2 linked regions of the Homo sapiens genome follow. The protein of the gene in region 2 purifies or fractionates together with the protein of the main gene of each other region. This does not show direct contact. Each region holds a gene or a part of one and is shown on either strand. Other genes may lie near its edges. The genes, in order: GTF2E2 and ATF7IP.

The links.
Region 1: the proteins of ATF7IP (region 2) and GTF2E2 purify together in Homo sapiens (affinity purification with western blotting, with the first as the bait; one study listed by BioGRID). This does not show direct contact.

Annotation. Positions count from the first base shown.
Region 1 is NC_000008.11:30,609,553-30,613,375, forward strand, and holds part of GTF2E2 (transcription initiation factor IIE subunit beta), read right to left. Parts: intron 2,930-3,823; coding exon 2,747-2,929; intron 1-2,746. UniProt on the Homo sapiens protein: Recruits TFIIH to the initiation complex and stimulates the RNA polymerase II C-terminal domain kinase and DNA-dependent ATPase activities of TFIIH. Both TFIIH and TFIIE are required for promoter clearance by RNA polymerase.
Region 2 is NC_000012.12:14,494,359-14,498,181, reverse strand, and holds part of ATF7IP (activating transcription factor 7-interacting protein 1), read right to left. Parts: intron 1,952-3,823; coding exon 1,839-1,951; intron 529-1,838; coding exon 109-528; 3' UTR 1-108. UniProt on the Homo sapiens protein: Recruiter that couples transcriptional factors to general transcription apparatus and thereby modulates transcription regulation and chromatin formation. Can both act as an activator or a repressor depending on the context.

The sequences.
Region 1 (3,823 bases), on a different chromosome or scaffold from region 2:
CGATGGCAATACTACCCAAAGTTACCTATTCAAGGTAATCCCTATCAAAATCCCAATGGCATTTTTTGCAGAAATGGAAAAATCCATCCAAAAATTTATATCAAATCTCAAGGGACCTCAAAAAGCCTGAAATGGTTTAGATCTGTGTCCCCATCAAATCTCATGTCAAACTGTAATCCCCAATGTTGGAGGTGGGGCCTGGTGGGCGGTGACTGGTATGAAGGTGGATTTCCCTCTTGGTGCTGTTCTCCTGATAATGAGTTCTCATGAGATCTGGTCATTTAAAAGTGTGTGGCACCTTCCCCACTCTCTCTTGCTCCTGCTCCGGCCATGTAAGATGAGCCTGTTTCCCCTTCACCTTCTGCCATGATTATAAGTTTCCTGAGACCTCCCCATAAGCTGAGTAGACACCAGCATCATGCTTCCTGGAGAGCCTGCAGAACTGTGAGCCAAATCAATCTCTTTTCTTTATAAATTATCCAGTCTCAAGCATTCCTTTATAGCATTGCAAGAATAGACTAATACATAGCCAAAACAATCTTGAAAAAGAACAAAATTGGTGATCTCACTCTTACTGATTTCAAAATATATTACAGAGCTACATTAATCAGGCCAGGTGCAGTGGCTCACACCTGGAATGCCACCACTTTGGGAAGCCGAGGGTGGGCAGATCACTTGAGGTCAGGAGTTCGAGACCAGACTGGCCAACATGGTAAAACCACATCTCTACCAAAAATAAAAAAATTAGTTGGGTGTGGTGGTGTGTGCCTATAATCCCAGCTAATCAGGAGGCTGAGGCAGGACTACTGCTTGAACCTGGGAGGCAGAGGTTGCAGTGACCCAAGATTGCATCACTGCACTCCAGCATGGGTGACAGTGTGACTCTGTCTCAAAAAAAAAAAAAAAAAAAGGCTACATTAATCAAAACATTGTAGTGCTGGCATGAAGAAAGACATACAGGCAGAATAGAGGGCCCAGAAATAAACCTTCACATATATGGTCAAATGATCTTCCACATGAGTACCAAGACTAAGACTATTCAATGGGCAAAGGACGGTCTCTTCATCAAGACACTGAGAAAACTGGATATCCACATGAAAAGGAATAAAGTTGGACTCTTACACCATATACAAAAATTAACTCTAAATACCTAAGACCCAAAACTATAAAACTCCTAGAAGAAAACATAGGACAAAAGCTTCATGACATTAGATTTGGCAGTGATTTAAACATGATACTAAAGGCACAGGCAACAAAATCAAAAATAGACAAGAGTGCAGCAAACTCAGAAACTGGCAAATTAAAGAGCACAATCAACAGAGTAAAATGGCAACCTACAGAATGGGAGAAAATATTTGCAAATCATGTATCTGTTAAGGAATTAATATCCAGAATATATTTTTTAAAACTCCCACAATTCAACAACAAAAACACAATGGAATATTATTCAGCTTTAAAAAGGAAGAAAATCCTGTTGCAAGTACAACATGGATGAACCTTGAGAATATTATGCTAAGTGAAATAAGCCAGTCTTGGAAAAAGATTCCAAGATTCCAAGCAAACGGGCTAAGGCTAGAAGAACAGAAGAGACATATCATATGCTACCTGCTGTAGGGCAGACAAGGTTTGGAGTAACTGCCCACTTAACCACAAAACAAAACAAATAGAAACACTCTTGGGAGGAATGTAACAGAATCCTGAGTCTTTACACATATTAATATAATCCACAAGGTCTAAGACCCAACAGAAATGTATTAGATATATGAAGAAACAGGAAAATATGACCCATAAAAGAGACAGTCAATGCAGACCAGCTCTGAGATGACTCGGCTGTTAGAATAAGAAGAATTTTAAAGCAGCTATAAGAAATCATACTTAAGGGTGTAACAAAAGATACTTGTCACGAATGGAAAAAAAAGAAAACAAAATTCAGCAAAGAAACAGAAACCAGAAGAAAAATTTACAAAGAAAGACTAGAACTGAAAAATACAATTAAAAAATTCACCAACTGGGCTTAACAAGTTGGAAGTGAAGAAGAAAAGTGAGTGAACTTGACAATGGATTAATAGAACAGAAAAAAAATTGAAATAAATAAACAGAGCCTCAGGGACTTGTAGTACAATACCAGAAGATCTGACATGTATAATTCCATTACCAAGAAGAAGAGACAAAGGGGCAAGTTTTCTTCTACAGGCAGCAAAATGAATGAACCTGCTTAACAAGTTAACATTAATAATGAGCAACTGTGACAAATGGAAACAAGCAGCTTTCCCCAGTGAGTTTCAAATTTAAACTGGAAATGTCATCTGTATCAGTAGGACTTTCATAGATAGCCCCTTTAGGACTTCAAAACAGCCAGGTTATTAACCAATGCTTTCATGTTTTAATGCCTCTAGTTCCTCAGGTAAGGAACATCTACTAGTATTATAGAAGACACTCTTATTTACAAACAGAGCTTACAAGAGAAACTCTATTGCCTTTGAGGAAAATTTTCCAGAAATAGCCTGAACAATCAAACAATCATATAGTAACAGCAACAAGAACCCGTCAAAGTTACACAGAGATGGCTGCTCCCTTTCCTGCTAGGTGGCACAAGACAAATTTCAAACCTTCAAGTGGCTCACTGTAACCCATGTGTATATAATAGAAGCTTTAAAAACAATTGTAAAATGTTTGATATTTTTAAAACCAAGAAGTCATTATTCATTCAAATTATATTAAGACATAGAAAGAAAAGAGAGATTACCTTGACAGCTTTCTGGGAATTGGGCAGTGCTTCTTCTATGTCTTCTAAAAGAATTCCTCCTAATCCTCGCTGGTCATGCTGATCTAAGAGCCTAAGTAGGGCCTTCTTATCTCTCACGTTGTACTTGGGCTTGAAAGCATACTTCCCATCTATTACTTCAATTTTGGGATTGTTGACTAAAGCCTGTAACAGTGATACAATTGGAATATATTAACAAATGGAACATAAATATATATATATATTTTTGAAACGTAATCTTGCTCTGTCGCCCAGGCTGGAGTGCAGTGGCGTGATCTCAGCTCACTGCAACCTCCGCCTCCTGGGTTCAAGCGATTCTCCTGCCTCAGCCTCCCTCTCCTGCCTCCCTCCCTCTCAGCACCTGGGACTGCAGGTGCGCACCACCACACCCAGCGAATTTTTGTATTTTTAGTAGAGACGGGGTTTCACCACATTGGCCAGGCTGGTCTTGAACTTCTGACCTCAGGTGATCCACCCACCTCAGCCTCCCAAAGTACTGGGATTATAGGCGTGAGCCACTGTGCCCAGCCCATATACACATTCTTAATTCTACTAATTATTTTAAAATACAACACTAGCCAATACAGTGGCAAATTAAAAGTACCTTATGAATACAAACTGGCAGGCCTAAAATCCTGGACATCCAGAATTCCAGAACAGTAGATCAGCACGGTGCTCACTTTTTATAAAAGAAACTGTGTTTTATTTACATAAATTCTTTGAAGAGAAATAAACCATTTTATCACAACTACTTTGAAAAAAGCTGAACCCATATTCTTCTAGTAGTCAAAATGTGTAGGAATCAATAAAACACCTACAAATATTAATAGACAAAGTGAACTGAGTAGTGCCCACTCCATCTGCAAAGTACAGCTTATCACATACTGGCATTATAAAGTAAGGAACATAACCCTTACTAGTCAATGGTCTTCCCCATCTGCTATCAACTGGCAATGGCAGCTGTGGAAGGAACTGAAAAGGACCAGACTAGTGCATACAAGAACTTTACCTATAATGTCAGCTTGAGAATGAAACTGAGTAGGAATGCAGGAATTACTG
Region 2 (3,823 bases):
CAAGAAATCTTGCACAAGGTGGATTTTACATGGGGTATCATGCACAAGATTAAAAACAAGACCAAAAGGTGGAAATTTTAAAAGAGGAAAATATAAAGGCTCCAAGGTTTAACTGCTCTGGGTAGAAGAGATCACATCTGTTGACTGAGGATCACAGAAAGGCCCAAAACGTCCATAAATATCCTTGGCTCGTACTGCAAAGTAGTATTTGCTACCAGATACAAACTGGGTGAGAGTACATGCCATGGGCAAGGGAAGTGCCTTGACTTCCCCAATCTTTTTCCATTGTGAGGGCACAGTGGCACTGGGTTCCTCATGGTAAGCATAGAGATGGTAGCTATCAACAGTGGCACAGCTTCGATCCACCTCCAGGACACTCCATGACAGTACTATGCCATTTTGACTCTGAACGCGTGCTAACTTCAAGTGTGGCTTCTGAGGCAGAGATGTGCTGGCAGCTTCTGGGGGCAGACGCTGTGGTTGTGGAGCTTCTGGTAAGGGTGCTGGGTGCACGGGGCGTGGGGGCTCCTGAAGAAACAGGTCACACTGATTAATGATGATTGCAAAAAGAACTATTTTAGAATGTTAGAATTAAAACACCTTAGAGAACATACGTAGAAGTATCATTTTATATCAAGAATTCTAGGAAATACCAAATACCATATCAAATTTGGCAAGTTCTATTTGGGGTTTTGTAATGAATCATGCTACAAACAATGATGCTGAGGTTATTCCTACTATACTTCCTAGACCTAAAATATTTTGAGTTTTTCTTAGGAAATAAAAAGCCCCTGCTGACGGAACATCATTTTGAGGAACACGGAAGTAATGATCTATTTCTAACAAAATAATTTATGATTGAATTATCTATGTTACAGATTATCATTTCAGTATGATGTAACATTTTTAAATATCATGTATGGCAACCAAGATCATATAAAATTGGAGAATACAAATATACTTTCATTTTTAAGTTATTTATAAATAAGCACATTAACACTAAATGTGTACTATATTCTTGGCCAATTTACAAGAAAAAGGTGATATTTAAACTCAACTGTGAAGGAGGATCCAGAGATGCAGAAATAATCATGTACCTTTCAGCCAAAAATAAAGCATGAGCAAAGGCATGTGGACAGTAAAGTGAGGGGACGTATGGACAAGAACAAGTATTAACTTTTTCTTGGACATAGGGTACATGAAGAAAAATCTGGAAAGGTAGGTTAAGGCCAGATGATGAAAAAACATGACTCTAACTTTAGGAAGTCCTATTGACTTTTCTAACACTGGAACATCATCATCATTATAATGATATTTCATACCAGTCAAACACTGACAAAATTGTGTCACAGGATAATGTGACATTGTTTTGGAGGCTAAATCTAAGGAGAAATCTTTGGTTATCTCTGTTACCTCTTAACTAATGAATTCCCAATATCATTGGATTCTTTAGAACAATTAATTGATGACAATGTAGCAGTTAGATGTGGCATAGTTTAGAACGAAAGAATAAAATTAACACATGGAGAAATGAAAAATGTCCTTTTTAATTTAACTATGAATTAGAAATGGTCTATATTTCACTTCATATACCCCAACTGTGGACCTGTTTTTGTACACTGTACACCACAAGCAAACTCAATGATTCTAAATGATCATCATCCCTAGGAACTATGTGTTCATAATGGTAAGATCAATTTTTAGAAATAAACTTCTGAAAAAGCAGGAAGACCTAACACTTCCCTTGGATATAACCATTTTAAAGAAAAATGCCAAATACAATAATATTTTATACCTCTACAGTTGAGAATTTTGCAAAACCAAGCATCAACACTTACAGTATGCACTTGTGGTGGTCGGTGATGCACTGTGAGCTGAGGTCCTGTTGATCCCAGGGTTAGTCCATTGTTTACAACATATGTGGTTGTTTGAGGCACTCGAACTGTAACACCTACAAACAAACAAAAAAATTACAGGATAAAATGATAATTCTATTGTAAATTTGGTGGAAAACTGATTAAATATTTGAAGGCAGTGAAGCAATGTTTTCAAGATTCGAAAGGAAAGATATTTCTAACCTAGAGGTCCTGTTCGTATTCAGCCAAGCTATCAATCAGCCTGTGGATAAAAAAACTTTCTTACATGCAAGCACTAAAAAAAAATTCTAACTACCACAAACCCTTTCTCAAATAGTCAATGGAGAATATGTGCCACCAGTACGTGAGAAAATAAAGAGAAAAACACGAGACACAAGCAACAGGAGGTCCAGCACAGGGAGAAATAAATGGATCGTTACCAGGAGAACTATGAACAAAAATCCTAGAACACTGGTTGTGTACCACATGTAAAAGGTAAATGGCCATAATGGAGCAGTGTGACTCAAAAGACAGACAAACTGGGAGTATCTTCATAAAAATCTCTGCAGTCTCATCTTTTCAACCAGGACAGAAAGCCAGAATAAGTCATCCTTGCCATGTATTAATGAGGTTCCTCTCATTTTCTCCATGCCCAGCTCCTTGGTTGAGGATACTCACTTCACCCCACAGAAAACTGCTGTGACATACACCAGGGAAACAAAAAGAGAAAATTTAGAGCCACCTACTGCCCTAACTATATTCCTGCCATTTATTCAGTACCTGGCCCATGCTGTAGTTCGGCCTGGTTCCTGGACTATAGTGAGCCAAGTTTCCCAGAACTCATTTCTAACCTTGTTGATTAATTTTCCCAGACAACGCTCTTGTAAACTTGAGAGAGTTGAAGCCAAGCTATGATCCAGGGACTCCAATCAGTTTATTTTCTAAATGATAGCATTACTGTGTTTCTTTAAATAGCTATATTTTCCCTTGCTGTCACATTTTGCAAAACTACAACATATGTGTGATGGTTAATACTGAGTGTCAACTTGATTAGATTGAAGGACACAAAGTATTAACCCTGGGTGGGCCTGTGAGGATGTTGCCAAAAGAGATTAACATTTGAGTCAGTGGACTGGGGAAGGCAGATCCACCCTTCATCTGGTGGGCACAATCTAATCAGCTGCCAGAAAATATAAAGCAGGCAGAAAAACGTGAAAAGGAGAGACAGGCTTAGCCTTAGCCTCCCAGCCTACATCTTTTTCCTGTGCTGGATGCTTCCTGCCCTGGAACATTGGCCTCCAAGTTCTTCAGTTTTGGGACTCAGACTGGCTTCCTTGCTCCTCAGCTTGCAGACAGCCTACTGTGGGATCTTTTTTTTTTTTTTTTTTTTTTTGAGACAGAGTCTGGCTCTGTTGCCCAGGCTGGAGTGCAGTGGCATGATCTCGGCTCACTGCAACCTCCGCCTCCTGGGCTCAAGAGATTCTCCTGCCTCAGCCTCCCAAGTAGGTGAGATTACAGGCTTGTGCCACCACACCCAGCCAATTTTTGTATTTTTGGTAGGGATGAGGTTTCACGATGTTGGCCAGGCTCATCTCGAACTCCTGACCTCAAGTGATCTGCCTGCCTTGGCCTCCCATACTGCTGGGATTACAGGCGTGAGCTACCATGCCCAGTCTATTGTGGGAACTTCTGATTATGTAAATTAATACTTAATAAACTCCCCTTTATATATATAAACATTCACTATATATAAAGTATTTTACATATATTTAATATTTATATATAATTAAGATATACTGTATATATATAGTAGGATATAAAGTATATATACAATTAGTTTATATGTAGTATATATTTTATGTATATACCCTATTAGTTTAATACATATATAATATATAAAATATATATATCCTATTAGTTTATATATAGTATATATTATATGAATACTATATATAGGAAACATATGT